6 linked regions of the Homo sapiens genome follow. The protein of the gene in region 1 interacts with the protein of each later gene in a biochemical or structural test. Each region holds a gene or a part of one and is shown in the gene's direction. Other genes may lie near its edges. The genes, in order: JOSD2, TLK1, YAP1, CGAS, POLI and SMAD4.

The links.
Region 2: the proteins of JOSD2 (region 1) and TLK1 form a complex in vitro, tested with the Homo sapiens proteins (one large-scale study listed by BioGRID).
Region 3: of the proteins of JOSD2 (region 1) and YAP1, one has a biochemical effect on the other in vitro, tested with the Homo sapiens proteins (2 studies listed by BioGRID).
Region 4: the proteins of JOSD2 (region 1) and CGAS form a complex in vitro, tested with the Homo sapiens proteins (one study listed by BioGRID).
Region 5: the proteins of JOSD2 (region 1) and POLI form a complex in vitro, tested with the Homo sapiens proteins (one large-scale study listed by BioGRID).
Region 6: of the proteins of JOSD2 (region 1) and SMAD4, one has a biochemical effect on the other in vitro, tested with the Homo sapiens proteins (one study listed by BioGRID).

The regions. Positions count from the first base shown.
Region 1 is NC_000019.10:50,505,498-50,508,191, reverse strand, and holds the end of JOSD2 (josephin-2), read left to right. Parts: intron 1-492; coding exon 493-618; intron 619-1,619; coding exon 1,620-1,814; intron 1,815-1,919; coding exon 1,920-2,019; 3' UTR 2,020-2,194; downstream 2,195-2,694. UniProt on the Homo sapiens protein: Cleaves 'Lys-63'-linked poly-ubiquitin chains, and with lesser efficiency 'Lys-48'-linked poly-ubiquitin chains (in vitro). May act as a deubiquitinating enzyme.
Region 2 is NC_000002.12:171,049,394-171,052,893, reverse strand, and holds part of TLK1 (serine/threonine-protein kinase tousled-like 1), read left to right. Parts: intron 1-2,719; coding exon 2,720-2,830; intron 2,831-2,943; coding exon 2,944-3,080; intron 3,081-3,500. UniProt on the Homo sapiens protein: Rapidly and transiently inhibited by phosphorylation following the generation of DNA double-stranded breaks during S-phase. This is cell cycle checkpoint and ATM-pathway dependent and appears to regulate processes involved in chromatin assembly.
Region 3 is NC_000011.10:102,113,447-102,116,946, forward strand, and holds part of YAP1 (transcriptional coactivator YAP1), read left to right. Parts: intron 1-697; coding exon 698-948; intron 949-3,500. UniProt on the Homo sapiens protein: Transcriptional regulator with dual roles as a coactivator and corepressor. Critical downstream regulatory target in the Hippo signaling pathway, crucial for organ size control and tumor suppression by restricting proliferation and promoting apoptosis.
Region 4 is NC_000006.12:73,435,298-73,438,797, reverse strand, and holds part of CGAS (cyclic GMP-AMP synthase), read left to right. Parts: intron 1-3,500. UniProt on the Homo sapiens protein: Nucleotidyltransferase that catalyzes the formation of cyclic GMP-AMP (2',3'-cGAMP) from ATP and GTP and plays a key role in innate immunity.
Region 5 is NC_000018.10:54,296,126-54,298,734, forward strand, and holds the end of POLI (DNA polymerase iota isoform a (long)), read left to right. Parts: 3' UTR 1-2,109; downstream 2,110-2,609. UniProt on the Homo sapiens protein: Error-prone DNA polymerase specifically involved in DNA repair. Plays an important role in translesion synthesis, where the normal high-fidelity DNA polymerases cannot proceed and DNA synthesis stalls. Favors Hoogsteen base-pairing in the active site.
Region 6 is NC_000018.10:51,057,713-51,061,212, forward strand, and holds part of SMAD4 (mothers against decapentaplegic homolog 4), read left to right. Parts: intron 1-412; coding exon 413-532; intron 533-627; coding exon 628-744; intron 745-2,153; coding exon 2,154-2,204; intron 2,205-3,500. UniProt on the Homo sapiens protein: In muscle physiology, plays a central role in the balance between atrophy and hypertrophy. When recruited by MSTN, promotes atrophy response via phosphorylated SMAD2/4.

The DNA.
Region 1 (2,694 bases):
GACAGGGACTTTGTCCAAGGCATTGGGGAGCCATGGGAGAGCTGAGAGCAGGAGAGGGCCAGGGCCGTGTGGGAATGGACTGGAGGGAGGCTGGAGGCTGCGGGAGAAGACAGAGCCCATCTGGGGCCTTGGGGACAGGGCAGAGTCAGGGCAGGAGAGACAGGACTTGGGGACAGGGCAGAGTCAGGGCAGGAGAGACAGGACTTGGGGACAGGGCAGAGTTGGGGCAGGAGAGGCAGGACTTGGGGACAGGGCAGAGTCGGGGCAGGAGAGGCAGGACTTGGGGACAGGGCAGAGTCAGGGCAGGAGAGACAGGACTTGGGGACAGGGCAGAATTGGGGCAGGAGAGGCAGGACTTGGGGGTGGATGAGTTGTGGGGTCTGAAGCGGGGAGAGTCAAAGGCTGAGGCAACTTGTGGCCCCTGGGACCCCCATTTTGTGGGGAGGCCTTTCCAGGGGTCCCCACCTCAGCTCTGGCCACCCCCACTACCAGGTTGGCCCCAGACTCCCGGCTGAACCCTCATCGCAGCCTCCTGGGCACCGGCAACTATGATGTCAATGTGATCATGGCCGCTCTGCAGGGGCTGGGCCTGGCCGCCGTGTGGTGGGACAGGAGGAGGTAGGCCCCAGAGCAGCACAGCATGTGCTGGGCCGGGCACAGAGGGCACCCTATAGTGTGAGCCTGTTGGGGGGCAGGGAGGGGAATGTGGCTGGGGGAGGTTGGCATGAATGTGGGAAGCCTGGCACTGATGGGTTGAAAGGGGGAGATCAGGTGGTCGATGGGCTGAGATGCTGGGTGGATGATGGTTACTGGGTGAATGCTGAGTAGGCCGTTGGATGTGTTGGGTCAGGGGGAGTGAAGTGATGGGTGTTCCTGGGCAATGGGCAGCAGACAGGAGGCTGGGGAGTTGGGTGGATGAATGGGAAGTTTTGATGGCCGGCTGGCCAGTGGCTGGGCATGTGGCTGGTGGATGAGGGGTAGACCAATGGCAGGGGGGTCAAGAGTGAGTGAGGATTGGGGGCATGGCGAGTCCACTGTTGGGTGAATGGCTGGCTGGGTGGTGGCCGGCTGTGTGGGTGGGTGGGTGGGTGGTGGGTGGTGAACAGTAGATGGCTAGTTGGATGGTGATGGTGGTTGGGTGGTTGACGGGGAGGTGGGGCGGGTGTATATGAGGGATGGAAGTGAATGCATAGATGGGAGGTGAGTGTGTGAATCGTCATTGGGAAGTTGGCTGGTGGCTGGGAGGCTCAGTGGGGTGGGCGGATCATGCATGGATCCTGGGTGGCTGTGTGAGGAGTTGGTAAGTTGGTGGGTGGGTGGCTGGACAGACAGGGTGATGGTGGTTGGTGAAGGGCCGATGTGAGTTGGGTGGACGGTGGGTGGGTGGGTGGACGGTGGGTGGGTGGGTGGGAGGTCTGGTTGGGTGGCCGCATGGGTGGGAGGTTTGAGTGGGCAGGTGAACGGATGAGTGTCGGGAACCAGGGTGGCTGATTAAGGAACACCTCTGGGTGGGCTCAGGAGGCCCTCACCACCACCAGCCTGGGCCCCACATGTTCAGCAACATTTCACCGGCGGGCGGAGCAGGCCCTGATGGCAGTGTCCCCTCCCTGCCCACACAGGCCCCTGTCCCAGCTGGCCCTGCCCCAGGTACTGGGGCTGATCCTGAACCTGCCCTCGCCCGTGTCGCTGGGGCTGCTGTCACTGCCGCTGCGCCGGCGGCACTGGGTGGCCCTGCGCCAGGTGGACGGTGTCTACTACAACCTGGACTCCAAGCTGCGGGCGCCCGAGGCCCTGGGGGATGAGGACGGAGTCAGGTGAGCCCCACAGAGGCGATTCCAAGACCAGGGGCCTGAAACCCCACTCCCCAGACGGAATGCCCAGGCTGGCCGAGCCTCAGTCTCCCCATTTCTCCCACCCAGGGCCTTCCTGGCGGCTGCGCTGGCCCAGGGCCTGTGCGAGGTGCTGCTGGTAGTGACCAAGGAGGTGGAGGAGAAGGGCAGCTGGCTGCGGACAGACTGACCATGGCTGACCATCGGCGCCCACAGCGCAGTCCCTGCGCATCCCCCTCCGGCTGCGCACACTGCATGCCTGGGAAAGGCCAGCACTTCATGGACCCTGGGGAGGCCCCGCCCCCTCCCCACACCCCTGCTCCCCACTGCCGCTGCTGCCTCAATAAATCTGCTGATTTGCTGCCTGCCTGGCCTGTGTCTGACGGCCCCACCCTTCTGGGGCCCCTTCCACTCAGTGACTCCCACTTACCTTACAGGCCAGACACCCTGGTGTGTGGGGCCGAGAGCCCAGGAGGCCTCCTGGTTCTCTGCCACCTCATGCCAGTTTCTCACTGCTGGGCCTCAGTTTCCTCATCAGTGACACAGCAGAAAAAAACACAAGTCCGTGCCCCCTGGGGCTCACGCTCCTCCGGTGCTGGAGAGAGACCAGTGGCAAACAAATGAGTTTGATCTCCTGGGTTCCACGGGGGTCATTGCTAAGGAGAAAGCAGGTGTTTACTTCTTTATTTGATTGATTGATTGAGACAGGGGTCTCACTCTGTCACCCAGGCTGGAGTGCAGTGGGTCAATCACAGCTCACTGTAGCCTTGAACTCCTGGGCTCAAGCGACCCTCCCACCTCAGCCTCCCAAGTAGCTGGGACCACGGGTGCATGCCACCATACCTGACTACTTTCTTTAAATTTT
Region 2 (3,500 bases), on another chromosome or scaffold:
TTTAATTTAAGACAGCATTGAGAACTACTGGTGTAGAAACTCGATAAAACCAACACCTGTGATCCTACTGTATTTGACAGTGTCTTTAAAACATCCAGTGTGTCTTTTTCCTGATCCTGTCATATTTACTTTCTCACACCCATTTACCATTTAACCACTATTTTAAATTTTGTATTTGTGATGCCTTGGTGTTTCTTTATGGTTGTATTAAATATGTGCTTACATTCTTCACAACATATTATTTCAGTTGGTTTTTGAACGTTAAGTGAAATTTTCCAGTATGGACCCTTTTGCCCAGCTTGTTTTCAATGAAATATATCAGAGAGTCATCCACTTTGATGAGTATAACTGTAGTTTGTTCATTTCATTGCAATATTGTAAGGTGTTACAAGTATACCATAATTTCTGTATCTTTTCTGCTTTTAGTTGACATTTTATTTCTACTTTTTCTAGTATAAACAGTTCTAAGAACATTCTTTGTACATGTCTTCAGGGCACATATGAAAGAATTTTTCTGTGGTATATGTTTAGGAAAGACATAGCCAGAGTACAGGGCATACGCATTTTCCATTTTACTGTATAATACCAGTTATTTCTCAAGGTTTTTTGGTCTGGTCTTTTTTTTCCCCCGCTAAGTGACAGGGTCTCACTGTGTCGCCCAGGCTAGAGCACAGTGGGGGATCATAGCTCACTGTAGCCTCAAACTCCCGGGTTTAAGCAATATTTCTACCTCAGGCTCCCAAGTAGCTAGGACTACAGGCTCATGCCATCACTCCGGGCTGATTTTTTTTTATTTTGTAGAGCTGGGAGTCTACAGGCTGGTATTGAACTCCTGGCCTCAAGTGATCCTCCCACCTTGGTCTCCCAAAGTGCTGGGGCTATAGGCATGAGCCACCATGCCCAGCTGATCTTTCAATATAAATTATTAGTCTTACTGAAATTGGTTTTGGGTATGGCATGATGTAGGGTTTCATTTCAATTTCTTTCTATATGGATAACCAGTTGTTCATCCCCATTTAATTAAAAGCTCATTCTTATACTGCCAGCTCTATCATCATAAAATCTTGTTTCCAGTATACAGGTGGATCTGTTTCTGTGTTCTGTATCATGTTTCCTTGTTCTGTTTGTGTCTCTACACAAGTACTGCAGCATCTTTTTATCATTGTTGATAAAACAATTTTTATCAGTTGTTTTTGGCTGTTAGTAACAGTGAACATAAATAACAGTACTTCAGATGAGATAGAAGCTTATTTTTCAAGAGAAGAACAGAAGTGGGCAGCTCAGATATTATTACTCCTCAGTATCATAAGGGACCTTGTCATTGTTAGTTCATGGCTTATATCTCAAAGGTCACATCAAGGTTCAATATATCTATTAGGGTCACAATTATATCTGTGTTCTAAGCAGATAACAGGAGGGAGGATGGGAGCAGAGAACACAAAGCACAATTCTGTGTGCAGCCTTCTTGGATATCTCATTGAACAACTTCTGCTTGCATCTCATTAACCATCCTTCGCTCTAAGGGAAGCTGGGAACTGTAGTCATTTGGCTAGGCAGATAGCAATCCAGGATAAAACATTGAATTTCCATTATTAAGGAAGGAGGAGGCTTGGGTGATCATAGTTATGTAGCTTTATGTTAAGTCATGATACATGGTTAAACAGATATCCTCTTCTTCTTTTTGGCTATTTTTGGCCCTTCACAGTCTTAGAGAAATTTTAGAATCAGGTTTCAAGTTGCATATGCATCATACACACACAGTGTTGAGATTTTGTTTGAATTGCTGAGGGTCTATTGGTGCTAAATTCTGTTTCCTCTTCCTTGAAAAACAACTGTGTTGGGTATCTAATTTTAGGTTGGCAATTCTTTTCTCTCAGCACTTTTAAGATTTTGTGCCCTTGTCTTGTGGATTCCACCATGGTTGGCCTAGACTTTTGATTCTCAAAGTGTGATCTTCAGACCAGGAGCATCAGTATTACTGGAGAACTTATTAGAAACGGAAATTTTCAGGTCCTTCCTGAGACCTGATTCAGAAGCTCTGGGAATGGTTCCCAGTAATCTGTTGTAACAAGCCCTATAGGTTATTCTCTTGCCACTGTACTAATCAGACTCATCTTTTGATGTTAGAAGGAAGCCTCTTCTCTGAGCATATGGCCACCTACAAAGTGAACAGAATTAGTATCCTATTGCTAAGGAAGAATGGTGAGGACAGTTGTTGGGTAGGCAACTTGTGTATGTCATTTATAAGTTCAGTGGAGAAAATATTTTGTTAGTTATAAGAGATAGAGGAAAACCCACATTTAATTTGTTAATTATAAGAGATAGAGGAAAACTCACATTTATTTTTAAGTGATAGACACTTTATATACCATATTTTAGTTATTTTTAACAAAGTGAGGTAGATTGTGTTGCTTCTATTTAGAAATAAGAAAGCTGAACTAAAGTTCTTATAACTTAGCCAAAGTTAACCTTAGAGTATGGATTTGAATGTATGGATATGGATACAAATTTCCCTGTATGTACTTTCCACTACACACTTAAGTAACATTTAACAGTATTATCTCATGGTTAAGTAGGCTTTTTTTTTTTCTCGTATCATACTCAGATATTTAATATTATTAGTCCTATCTGTATATAATTTATTTAGAACATTAAAACTATTTCTAAGCTTTTCATATTCCCCAGTCTAGACCTCTTGCATTTTCTACTTATGTCATAGGCTAACTGTGATCTCAGACGGCAAATAGATGAACAACAAAAATTACTTGAAAAATACAAAGAACGATTAAATAAGTGCATATCAATGAGCAAGAAACTTCTTATTGAAAAGGTAGGCTAAAAGTTGAGTAAATTTTCGCTTTCCCTTCATTAGCCCCTTTTGCTTTGTATGCTTTTATAAATTAATGAATACAATTGAGTGATGATTTTTTTTCTCCTTTTCAGAGTACACAAGAAAAGCTGTCAAGCAGAGAGAAGAGTATGCAAGATCGATTACGCCTCGGGCACTTTACAACAGTTAGACATGGCGCTTCATTTACTGAACAATGGACAGATGGTTTTGCATTTCAGAATCTTGTGAAGTTAGTCATTCTTAACATTTAAAAGTTTTTAGTATTCGTTTGGGTTTTCATTACTTTAAAAGATTATAGATTTGTAATTATGCTCTCCAGTTCCTCGCTACTCTGAAATCATAGAATTTAGTACCTTTGAAAGGGATATGAAACCAAGAGTATTACAGTTTTAGCTTAGTAATTTCTTGATTAATTAGCAGTCATCTATAGAATGTAATATATTATTCTAATTCTGACTTTCCGAGATATTAATTGAACCTTTAGCTTTACAGATGATGTTTTGAGAGGGAAATTGTTGAAAATTTAATTTTCACTGGAAGATTTGTGTGTGTGTTTATTTCCTAGGATTTTCCTACTTAGTTTTTTCCCATTCCCCAATCCTTACATGTTAATGTTCAGCACTTGCCTGCTCTCTATTCCTAAGGGAAA
Region 3 (3,500 bases), on another chromosome or scaffold:
CTTGTATAGAGTTGTGGATGTGTGTGAGTTCTTAAGTTAAAATTGGACTGATAACATCTTTATCTTCTACATACAAAGATATAGTTGGGTTTTTTTCATCCTGTTCATTGTAGATGGCTTTTAAGAACATTTGGGCAGTTCAAATTTGTTGCTCTCATTAAAATTTGTGTAATTTGTTATGATTTCTTTATTGATGGCATTTTATCATGGTTGGAATAAATGACGAGGGCTTGATTTTTCTTGAGTTTGACCTAGAAAAAAAATTAATTACTTAAAACCTAGTAAAAAATACATATTCTTTGTGTTGTGTTTATACTTAGAACATTTTAGAACTTGGAAAAGCACCCATAACTGCACTGACCTCTTAAAAATTAGGTTTTAAAATTCACTATTATTTTTGGAATGTTTTATTCATTCAGTACTAGTTGCCCTTACATGTCTAGTGTGGACCAGGGGAAATTCATTAGATGGACTGCTCATCAATACAATTACAAACATTTATAAAATTTATATTAAAATTATATAATATTAAAAGTATCCATTTGAAAACCTGTGTTCTCCAGTGTCGAATATTAAATGTTGAAATTTTCCTTTGGTACTTAGATATTCGGCTGCAATTAAGCGCTGACTGGGAAATTTAAAGGGACTCAGTTGTGTTTTTTCTTTTTTAATTTTTCATCTTAATATTCCCTAATAGGCCAGTACTGATGCAGGCACTGCAGGAGCCCTGACTCCACAGCATGTTCGAGCTCATTCCTCTCCAGCTTCTCTGCAGTTGGGAGCTGTTTCTCCTGGGACACTGACCCCCACTGGAGTAGTCTCTGGCCCAGCAGCTACACCCACAGCTCAGCATCTTCGACAGTCTTCTTTTGAGATACCTGATGATGTACCTCTGCCAGCAGGTTGGGAGATGGCAAAGACATCTTCTGGTCAGAGATACTTCTTAAAGTAAGTGAAAATAATGGTGGGAGACAGTTATCTAAGACAAATATGTATTGGAAAACACAGTAAAGTGGTGTCAAGATACAGAATATCATTTATTTTTATGTTTTATTTAATATTTATGTTAAGCTCTGTAGCTCTATCTTCCATATATATGTTTCAGTTTGGTATGACCTAAATACCTTTGTTAGTATGGGTAATATTTTGAAAGCTTTACTGAGTCTTGGTTCTGAGCCTCTTTATAATCTTTTCTTTTGTGGAAGTTTGGTTATTCTCATTTTGAGCTTGTGCCAAACCTTTTAATTAGCCTAGCACAAAACAGAAAGAATACCATGAAAATTTTCAAATTCTGGGAATTACAGGGCTAGCAGCGTCTTACAAAATACGTATGGTGCTACTTGTATCTTTTTAAATAAATATTTTATTGGTAGAGAACTACAAAATAAGTAGGGCTTTTGGGGGAGTCTAATTTTACAGTATTTTAAATTGTGAAATGACAAGCACTACAACTGAAGCTTGATGTGACTTACCAATATTTCCCCCCAAAAATGTAAAGGGAAATAAAAATTTTTAGGTTTCATATGCAGTCGCTCAGTGGCAAACTTCTTTCAAGCTAGTAGGTCTTCACAACAGAAACCCTCCTCTCTGGGAAAACAAAAACATGACCGTTGGGTTGTTTATTTATTTTTATTTTTTCAGTCCTTTTGTGTTTAATAAAATGGCAGAATTACACTAGGCTGAAAAGACATAAATAGAATTTTCTCTCCTCTGATTTTGAAATTACAGATAAGACCTCAATTTTTTTCTGGCTTGTTTGGATCAAGTATATATTGAAATGTTGACTAAAACTAATTATGATAGACTGAAATTGATGTCTTTAAAAAAGCTCACTTAATAGTGTTTAATCAGGTTGAGATAATAAAGTGAAAAACAGTGTAAGTTTTGATTCGGATAGGTCTTGACAGTCTACTCCTAAGGCAAATGTAACATTTATTTATCATACCAGATAACACCATTAAGGATGTTTTGTTGTGTGAATCCTAGTATGTGTTTTATATTGATTGTCTTCCAGGGTGGGTTGCTACTTTGTAATGTAAGATAGAAAGTTTTGTGACAGACTTACAGAAGAGCAAAGGAAAAGGTTTGATCATGAAAAGTTCGTACAGTTTTTTTTTGCCCCCTTTCCTGCAACTTTTTCTTTTCTTTTCTTCTTTTTTTTTAAAAAAATTCATTTTCTGGTGTCCTGGTATCCATTTCAAAGGATCAGGTTTCAACCAGAACAGTAAAGGGCCTGAGACTGGAAAGTACACACAAGTCTGGCAAACTCATCTGCATGAGCAAGATCATTTGTTCTCAAGCAGACATCCAAAGTAAATGATTGAAAGAGCTGCTAGCTGTGAAGGATGTGTCTTGAAGGGGAAGGGAGTGGAAACAAACCAGGTTGTTAGGAAGAAAAAGAAAGGCTGCACTTTTTTGAACCTCTCCCTGCTGGGTCACATGCTGACCTGGGGAGATTGTTAAACAGCTTAATAGCCTGCTTTCCTTCTTTCTTTGGTTGATGCTGTGGCTAAAAGTATAAGGTTAAAGAGCAACATTTATGCTCTTCTTCTTAGTTCTTTGTATCTTGTAATAATTGCTTGTAGGTGATACCTGCCTACGATTTCATTATTTTGAATGAATGATCTTTTTTTGAGCTGAAATCAGTATTCTAGATACAGTTGGCCTTCCGTATCTGTGGGTTCAGCATTCATGGATTCAACCAACCTCTGATTGAAAATATTTGGAAACAAATTACATCTGTATTGACTAATGTACAAACTTTTTTCCTTGTCATTATTTCCTAAATAATGTAACAACTATTTAGCCTTTACGTTGTATTAAGTATTATAAGTAATCTAGAGGTGATATAAAGTATATGGGAGAATATGTATAGGTTATATGCAAATATTATGCCACCTTATATGAAAGACCAGAGCCTCTGTGGATTTTAGTACATGTAGGAGGTCCTGGAACCAATCCTTGACCACAGATGCTAAGGAATGACTATTCATTTTTCAAAGTTTCCAGTGATTCTTCCTTTGTGAAGAAATGTTTCTCTTAAAGGTATTGATATATGTAGATGGATTAATGAAGGGTATATACCTTCCAACCCCAGTCACCTCAATTCACCCCTGTCAACTATGGGCCTGTAAGGAAGATAAACCAGGCTAAAATAAATAAATCTCAAATTATGTCATAGGAGAAAAGGTTGCAAGGGTAGAGAGATATTTACCCGGAAAAGAAAAAACTGGGAGGAGGAGAGATAAGACATGATTGTTGTTTCAGTGTTTCTGGGGAACTTTTATGTGGGAGTAGGATTAGTCTTACTATATAAGAAATGTGAGGAATTTTGATTCCATGGAAGAATTTTCTTATATAAAACTTTTAAGAACTAGAAGAGTTTTCCTGGACAGGTAAATCTTGCTCAATAAATGTAGGTAAAATCATGGTTACTTGGTATCTGTCAGGGATTCTATGGAGGCCCCTAAACATTGGATGTGGGAGAAGAATGCTGTGGG
Region 4 (3,500 bases), on another chromosome or scaffold:
TCCTGAGGAACACTGGAAGGTAAATCACCTTAGAGATGAAGAAGAGTCCTTTGGTGGCCCTGTGGCCTATGTGGTTAGGCAGTTCTTTTTTTTTTTTTTTTTTGAGACGGATTCTTGCTTTGTTGCCCAGGCTGGAGTGCAGTGGTGTGAACTTGGCTCACTGCAACCTCTGCCTCCTGGCTCAAGCGATTCTCCTGCCTCAGCCTCATGAGTAGCTGGGACTACAGGCGCATGCCACCACGCGAGGCTAATTTTTGTATTTTTAGTAGAGACAGGGTTTCATTATGTTGGCCAGGATGGTCTCCATCTCTTGACCTCGTGATCCACCCGCCTCAGCCTCCCAAAGTGCTGGGATTACAGGCGTGAGCCACTGCATCTAGCCATGGTTAGGGAGTTCTTTTCATTCTTCCATTAAAATGAAAGAAAGTGAAGGCTGGTGCTGGATGCTTAGCTTCACCTCTGCTTTCTGTTACCCTTGGCTGTTCTGCATCTGCCATCATTCCAGATTATGTATAATTAGACAAAACTCTGCTTCTGTGTATGTGTGTGAGTGTATGTGAACAGAGGGACTTAACAGTGAAAATACTTGTACTAGATTGGAGACACTTATAACACCTGCTATATCTTTTCTTTCTCTAAACATTCTACTAGAAATTCCCTGGTCTCACAAGCTATATTTTTAAAAATATTATGTTTTTGTTTTTATTTATTTTTATTTGTTTATTTTTTGAGACAGAGTCTCGCTGTGTCGCCCAGGCTGGAGTGCAGTGGTGCAATCTTGGCTCACTGCAACCTCCACCTCCTGGGTTCAAAAGATTCTCCCACTTCAGCATCTCGAGTAGCTGGGACTACAGGTGCGTGCCACCATGCCCAGCTAATTTTTTGTATTTTTAGTAGAGACTGGGTTTCACCATATTGGCCAGGCTGATCTCGAACTCCCAACTTCAGGTGATCCACCCATCTCCATCTCCCAAAGATTACAGGCATGAGCCACTGTGCCTGGCCTTGTTTTTATTGATTTTTGATTAAAAATTTTAAATTTTAAAAATTTACCTGTTGCAAAATAATACTAGTTTTATTACCAAGGATATAATTTATTTAAAGAACAGTTTATGATTTACTTGCAGTTTTTTTGTTCTTAAGATAAAAGGACAGTCAAAATATGAGGTTTTTAACCCACTCAAAAAAATGTTCAGCCAGGCGCAGTGGCCCATGCCTATAGTCTCAGCTACTCAGGAAGTTGAGGCGGGAGGATTGCTTGAGCCCAGGGGTTCAGGGCTGTAGTGAGCTATGATCATGCCACTGCACTCCATCCTGGGTAACATAGCAAGAAGTCCTCTATACCCCGCCTGCCAAAAAAAAAGTCTCTGGACAGTTTAACTCAACATAGGTAAATTAACTTGTTTCATTATGTTATCTGTTTTTAGATACTGGTTTTTAAATTTTGATTTAATTCGTTTCATAAATTTATAAAGCATATACGTGGTTCCAAAGTCAAAGCTATGGAAAAAGGTACAGTTAGAGAAACATCTTCTGTTCATGTCCTCTCCACACTCTTCTCTCCTTCCCTGATTAGAAACCTTTTTAATTGTTTTTAGTTTACCCTTCCATGTTTTATTTTTTATTTTATTTATTTATTTATTTTTGAGACAGAGTCTCGCTCTGTTGCCCAGGCTGGAGCGCAGTGGGGCAATCTTGGCTCACTGCAGCCTTCGCCTCCCAGGTTCAAGTGATTCTCCTGCCTCAGCCTCCAGGAGTAGATGGGATTACAGGTGTGTGCCACCACGCCTGGCTAATTTTTGTGTTTTTAGTAGAGATGAGGTTTCACCACGCTGGCCAGGCTGCTCTTGAACTCCCAACCTCAGGTGGTCCACCCACCTTGGCCTCCCAAAGTACTGGGATTACAGGCGTGAGCCACCGTGCCTGGCCTTCCGTGTTTTAAAAGTGTAAGTAAATATATTCTCTCTCTCTCTCTCTCATTCATGTAATGGCTCAAACCTATAATCCAGTACTTTGGGAGGCTGAAGTGGGTGGATCATTTGAGCTCAGGAGTTCGAGACCAGCGTGGGCAACATGGTGAAAGCCTGTCTCTACTAAAAATACAAAAATTAGCCAGGTGTGGTGGTGCAAGCCTGTAGTCCCAACTATTCAAGAGGCTGATGTCAGGGGATCACTTGAGCCCTGGAGGTTGAGGCTGCAGTGAGCCAAGATGGTGCCACTGCACTCTAGCCTGGGTAACAGAGTGAGACCCTGTCTCAAAAACAAAGAAAAAGGTGTCCCTTTTATTTTAAAAAGGGGATGGCATATAAATGTGTATATAGTATATAATATAAATTATATACAATGTTTTATATTATATGACATATTACATATAAATTATACATAATATATTACATGTAAATACTTATGTAAATATATTCATATAAATACTTATATTTAATATATATTTTTAAGATAAAGAAGTCAGGTAAAAACTAAGGAAATCTGGATAAAGTATAGACTTTAGTTAACAATAATGTATCAATATTGGTTTATTGTACCAATGTATTTTATGAATATGGGATGTTAATAATAGGGAAATGGGGGTGCAGTGGCATGTGCTTATAGTCCTAGTTTCCTCAGCCTTCGGGAGGCTGAGGCAGGAGGATCATTGAGCCCAGGAGTTAGGGTTGTTCTTCTTGGAGCTGAACTCCTGGGTTCAAGTGATCCTCCCGTCTCAGTCTCCCACCTCCCAAGTAGCTGAGATTACAGGTGCACGACACTGTAATCAGTGGACATGTTTTCAAGTGGGTTTAAAACTTGGTATTTTGACTGTCCTTTTATCTTAAGGACAAAAAACTGCAAAAAAATTATAAGCTGTTTTTTATAAGTGTATTATTGGTAATAATACTGGTATTACTTTGAAAAAGGTAGATTGAACATAAATATTAGATAATATAGTAATTTATATACATACAAAATATATTTGTATGCTACCCCCTTTTTAAATAAAAGGTACACTTTTTTTTTTTTTTTTTTTAAAGTAGACACAGGGTCTTGCTATGTTGCCCAGGCTGGTCTCAAACTCCTGGCCTAAAGCAGTCCTCCCACTTTGGCCTCCTAAAGTGCTGGGATTATAGGCATGAGCCATCATGGCCAGGACATATGTTTTTCTTTTTAATTTTATTAATTTGGTTTATTTTTTAATTTTATAGACGCCCTGCTCTCAGATATAACACTTTTTTTCTTTTAATTTAACAAGATATTTTCGATCTCACTCCATACCTCTATATAGAGAAAACACCCATTCCTTTTTAAAGTCTATTTTTACAGCTGGTCAAAGAGTAAATCGTTATGTAATATTGCTAGGCATTTCCCAGATCTCCATAGGCATCATTCCAATTTGCTTTTCCACAGCAATGTATCAGAGTACCTGTTTCACTCTCAACCTCACTGACTTGTTAAACTTTTTGCCAATTGAAATTCTTGCCAGTGAGAAAATGATATCTCAAAAAGTAAGA
Region 5 (2,609 bases), on another chromosome or scaffold:
ATTAAACTTATGAAAAGGGTATATAACTTTTTGTAAATCATTAAAACATTTTATAGTCCTTGTAATGATTTCAGGACCTTGGACAGCTAGAAGGGGCTTAAGAAAAAATGGCTAAGAAAACAAAGTAAATGGTTTTGGCCAGCTTAAAAAGAGAAAGCAAAATAGTTAAAAATACATTTCATAGATTGAGAATGTACGGGCTATGTCACAGTTACGCTACTTATTTTGTGGTTTTAAGTTAGTCTCAACATCTTTGGGCCTCAGAATCAACTTTTTTATGGGATCTTTTTTCTCTGTTTTTAAGATTATCTCTTTTTTCTTTGGTGCTTTGCAGGTTTACTGTATTATTTGGAAGTGCGAATTTATTTTTATTCTTAGTATATACTGGCTTCTTCCTGTATCTTTTAATTCATGTTCTGTAAAATTCTCAACCACTAGCTCTTCAAATATTTCTTCTCTATTCTAGGACTGTATACAAATGATAGACTTTCTTACTGTATCCTTCATGTCTCTTAATTTCTCATATTTTTCATCCTCTTGTTTCTCTTTACTGCATTTTGGGTAATTTCATCAGCTCTATCTTTCTGTTTACTAGTTCATTTTTCAGTAGCATCTCACCTGCTATTTAAAACAATGATGGTTTTAATTTCAATAAATATATTTTTCATTTGATTCTTTTTAACTTCCCGTTTACTCATTACAGTCCCTTGTAAGTCTGTTTCTAATTTTTAAAAGTCAAATATATGATATTTTTGATAATTTCAATATTTTAAGTCTTTATAAGTCTACATTTAAGGTTATTATTGCATATCATTGTGACTTATTTCCTTGAGTATGTGTTAATCTGCGAGAAGACAGAGGGCCTAAATTGTGTATGTTTTCCTTCAGTATGATTTGAGTTCGTTGCTTCTCTGGGTGAGGTGGTACAAACTCCTTGGCATACTCTATTCACCTTTGTGGATCCTGATTGAATGCCTTGTCTTAAGTGTAAGCTCCCTGACCCTTACTACTAGCCGAAGGTTTTGTCTCTGCAGGTCAATTCCAAACTAACAGGCAGATGCTGTTAGCTATCTGCCTCCAGGGATAAACCCCATCTTTCAAGCTTGCTTCTTGCTTGATGCTTTCTGCTGCTTTCTTGCTTTTGTTTCAGCTCGAGTTTGTTGTTGTTTTTTTTTTTTCCTGTTTCTGTCTTGAATGTAGAGGGTATTTTTATTTTTATTTTTTCTGTTTCTCTCTTGAGTGTATAGTGTAGAGGGGGTTTCTGTCTTGAGTGTAGGCCTGGAGATTTCCCTTATATGGTACAAACCAGCAATGAATTAAGAGGTCTCTTTTCTCCAAGATCTAGTGTTTTGTACTAGGAGAACTCTAAAAAGTATCTATTCCACTGTAGTGCCAAAGTACAAATTTATTTGGATTTATTTTTTGCCATCTTATTTTTTAATATATTTCTTTTTCTATGTTGTGCTTCTTTCCCACCTTTATCTCTCCTCCTATCTTTTGGGATCAGTTGGGTTTTCTATTTAATCATATATTTTCCCTTTACTGATTTGGAATGTGAATGTTACAAGTCCTTTTGATTATCCTTAAACATCTAAAAATGCTACCCTCTTTCCAAACAACACAAAGGTATTGAAATAACATTAATTCTAATTAAATTCCACAAGTTCTTTATTAAATCTCCAAATTGGATATTATTAGTATTTTATATAGTCAATGTTTATTTTTTTGATGGGACATGGTGGGGGCTTACCTTTTTTCTTGTGTGTCAGATGTTCCTTCTAGGTAGAATTCTTTATACCTTCTGAAATTATGTCCTTAGAGCTGTAGATTTAGAACTGACATCTCTTGAGCTGTTCTAAGATAATATCTTTTACTTTGGAGATACGCAGTTTTTATTATATGTCTAGCTATAGATTTATCATGGATTTAGGTTCATTATGAATCTGCAGATTTGTGTCTTCCATCAAATCTGGATTGTTTTCAATATTAAAAAAACTTCTATTTTAAAATCTGTATATAGAAAGGTACATAAACATAAATGAACATGTTAATGAGTAATTGTAACAACTATGTAACTGTCCAAGTCAAGAAATAAAACATATCAAGTAATCAAGAAGTCCAGAGTTTTCTTTGGGGTTTCATTACGTAGGCATGATTTATTAAAACCTTTACTGTGTGCTTGAACTTAATCTCCAGTTTCCCTCCTCTGTCTGGACATCAGGCTGGCTCAAAGTCTCAACACCCTAATCATGGTTGTTTTTTTGAAGTGAGCTACCTCCATCCTAAATCATCTTTTTAGCATTAGCTGTCTAGGGCCCACTGTGGGTCACATCATTAGCATACAGTGTCAGGGCTTACCATGAATAATGAAGGCACTTCTGTTGTTTAGGAAATTCCATGGGTTTTAGGAGCTTGGTGTCCAGGAACCCTGAACGAAGACCAGACCAATTATACTACAGAATCTTTTTTTTTTTTTTTTTTTTGAGATGGGGTCTCGCTCTGTCGCCCAGGTTGGAGTGCAAAGGTGTGATCTTGACTCACTGCAACCTCCATCTCCTGGGTTCAAGTGATTCTCCTGCCTCAGCCTCGAGTAGCTGGGATTACAGGCA
Region 6 (3,500 bases), on another chromosome or scaffold:
TCAGTTTTCAACATTTTCTTGAGCCTGGATTTTTGGGGTCCTAATCAGAAAGGTCCAGAGAGAGAGGTGGATGGAGTGGCCAGGATGAACTGACATACCTCTGAAGAAGTTAATATGATAGGCCAGACGTACAGTGGTGTTTTGCTGGCATTTGAAATATGTTTGTGAAGAAATAAGCCACTACAATTAGTTAGACATTACCTAAAATGGAATAATTTTGAGCTTCCTCAAGTTAAAGTTTGCCTTTATAGATGACTGTAGGTTTTTTACCTGATAGGCCATGGGTGAGTTACACTTTTTGCCCATCTTTATAGTTGTGCATTATCAGATAAAATTGGTCCTTCATTTAGTATATGAAATCATAAGATGACATCTATGAATGTACCATGTTAATGTCTTCTTGTTCCTCTAGGTCAGCCTGCCAGTATACTGGGGGGCAGCCATAGTGAAGGACTGTTGCAGATAGCATCAGGGCCTCAGCCAGGACAGCAGCAGAATGGATTTACTGGTCAGCCAGCTACTTACCATCATAGTATGTACATACTTTAAAAAATCTTTTAAATAGTTGAGAAAAAAGTAGGCAGCCTTTATAAAAGCAAATTAACCCATGTGGGCCTTAATTTTTAGACAGCACTACCACCTGGACTGGAAGTAGGACTGCACCATACACACCTAATTTGCCTCACCACCAAAACGGCCATCTTCAGCACCACCCGCCTATGCCGCCCCATCCCGGACATTACTGTAAGCTCTTGTTTTTGTTGTAAGGGCTATTTTTTTTTTTTTTTTGGTAGGGCTTTGTTTTCTGTTTTTTAAAAATGTTTTTACATCTTTTATTCATCCTGTGATTTTGTTTCATTAAATAGTGCTTTTCAGTATTTTTTGTAAACAGTATTATTTTTCATAGTTATCCTACCTTTTTATTTTAGAGGAGTGATGTTTGCTAAATACATTTATTTCTCTGTTGCTAATGTTTCATTAACATCACATTGATTTCCATTCATTTGTTTGTTTGCTTTGTATATGTTCTTAGATCTCATCTGTGTCTTGTATATCCACGCATAATGGATTGAAACCCTTTGAGTGCTAAGTTCTCAAGGTTTCCCTCAGCGTAGTATTCAGTGTACTTTGGATAATGTTGAATCTATAGATAACTCTGTGCTGGCATGATTGGGAGGAATACCCTACAGATAACATGTAGTTTCAGGTAGAATAGGAGCATTGTTCATATGGCTTAGTAAAATCGAGAGTATAACTCTTATATACATTAAATCCCTTTCTTCTCATTATAATATTAATAGTACCAAAGAAAACTTAGAAAATATAGAAAAGTATAAATAAGAAAAGCAAAATTACCCTGAATCCTGCTACTCAAAAACAGCCACTTCTAATATTTTGTTATTTTCCTTCCAGTCATATAAACAGGTATATGTAAATTGACAGGGGCTCCTACTCTATGTGTATTGTATATATCTTGCTTCTTTTCAGTTATGTTACTATTTTTTCCATTTCTTAAGAGAATGTAATTTTTAATGGCTGCCTAGGCCGTCATAGTGTTGAAGGGTGCTGGGTTTGGACCTTTAACAGGCTGTGTGACCATTGACAAGTTATTTCACCTCATTAAGCCTCAAGAGTAATAATAGTAGTATCTACCTCAAGGGGTGTTCGTAAGAAGTAAACGTAATAATTTATGTGAGGTGTTTAGCACAGTGTTTTAACACATTACCAGTTTTCAATTATGTTAGCTATGATTCCATTAAATAAACATCCTTAATTAACATAAGCACTTGTTTTTAGAATAGACCTAACAGTTTATTATTATACATTGCATTATAAATTGTACTGTATTGGACGTTACATGAATAATTCATTTATGATCTGTATTAAATGTTGGATATAAAATTATGTGTAAATTGTGTAATAATAGCACTTGGCAGATAGCACTGAAATGTTAGTTATTAAATATCCACAAAAGTATTAATAGTTTAAGACTATTTGCTTATTGTAAACTTTTAAGTTCTTAGACATTGCATAAGCTTGTTTTAAACAATTCCTAACCTATAATAGTTATATTTAAGTAAGATTTACTGAAAGTTTTAGCATTAGACAACTTTTAGTAAATAAAAATGGAATTTTTGTTGTCTTTTCTTTAGGGCCTGTTCACAATGAGCTTGCATTCCAGCCTCCCATTTCCAATCATCCTGGTAAGTGTATTTCAAAATTGATTTCCTGTATTTAGATTGATTTAGTGGTGATTGAAACGCACAAACACAGGCTTTAATGGAATTATGGGGTCACTTCTCAGATGAGTACAATACTCATCATGACATGAGTTAATCAACAGTTTGAGTAGTCAATATAGTCACACATAGACTGTCTATATTTTATTCAGTTTAACTGTCCCCAAAAGAAAAGAACTATCTTTTCAGCTAAAATGAGAATTACAGAAATGCTGACTTCAGCATTGAATACATAAATATGCAGCAGAATAAAACTAGGTTTCAAAATAGAACAGCTGTAAAACTATAGCTTAAAAAGCCAGGAAAGAATCTTAAGTACATGCCGAAAAGAAAAATAATTCACTCTATTCAGGATCTCTGGTTAACTGGAATTTAGAAACTATTTGATTAAATTGTATGCAAAAGAGTAAATCGCTAAGTAGCTTTCTTCAGTTCAAAGTTTGTGTATAATTTTTGAAACTGTAGAGGTAATAAAACAGAAAACACTTGAAAATAAAATACTGAAAGTCCCTTGTAACACAAACATAGATTTTGAATTTTTTTCTCATCCTTTCGTATCTGTTTTTCTTAGCATAAAAAGATGCAAATATATTACTTCAGCTAATCACCTTAATTTTTTGGAAACTATAAACTCAATTTTCCTCCTAATTAAAAGAAAATTATGAAGAATTATATTTTTATTTTTACTTGTTTATTTTTGAGAGAGGGCCTGGCTCTGTTGCCCAAACTGGAGTGCAGTGGCATGATCTCAGATTACTACAGCCTTGACCTCCTAGTCTCAAGCGATCCTCTCACCTCAGCTTCTAGAGTAGCTGGGACTATAGGCAAGGGCCACCATGCCTGGCTAATGTTTGTATTTTAGTAGATAACAGGGTCTCACCATGTTGCCCAGGCTGGTCTCGAACTCCTGGGCTAAAGCAGTCCTCCTGCTAATAATTTTATTTATTTATTTATTTATTTATTTTTTTCCGAGATGGGATCTCGCTATGTTGTCCAGGCTGGTTTCGAACTCCTAGCCTCAAGTGATCCTCCTGTCTTAGCCTCCCAAAGTGCTGGGATTATAGACGTGAGCCACCACACCAAGCTTGAAAAATTAAAAAAATATATTTTTAAATGATTTTATTTTTGATCTTTGTGGGTACATAGGAGATGTATATATTTATGGGGCACATGAGATGTTTTGATACAGGCATATAATGCATGATAATCACATCATGGAAGATGGGGTATACATCCCTTCAAGCATTTATCTTTTGTGTT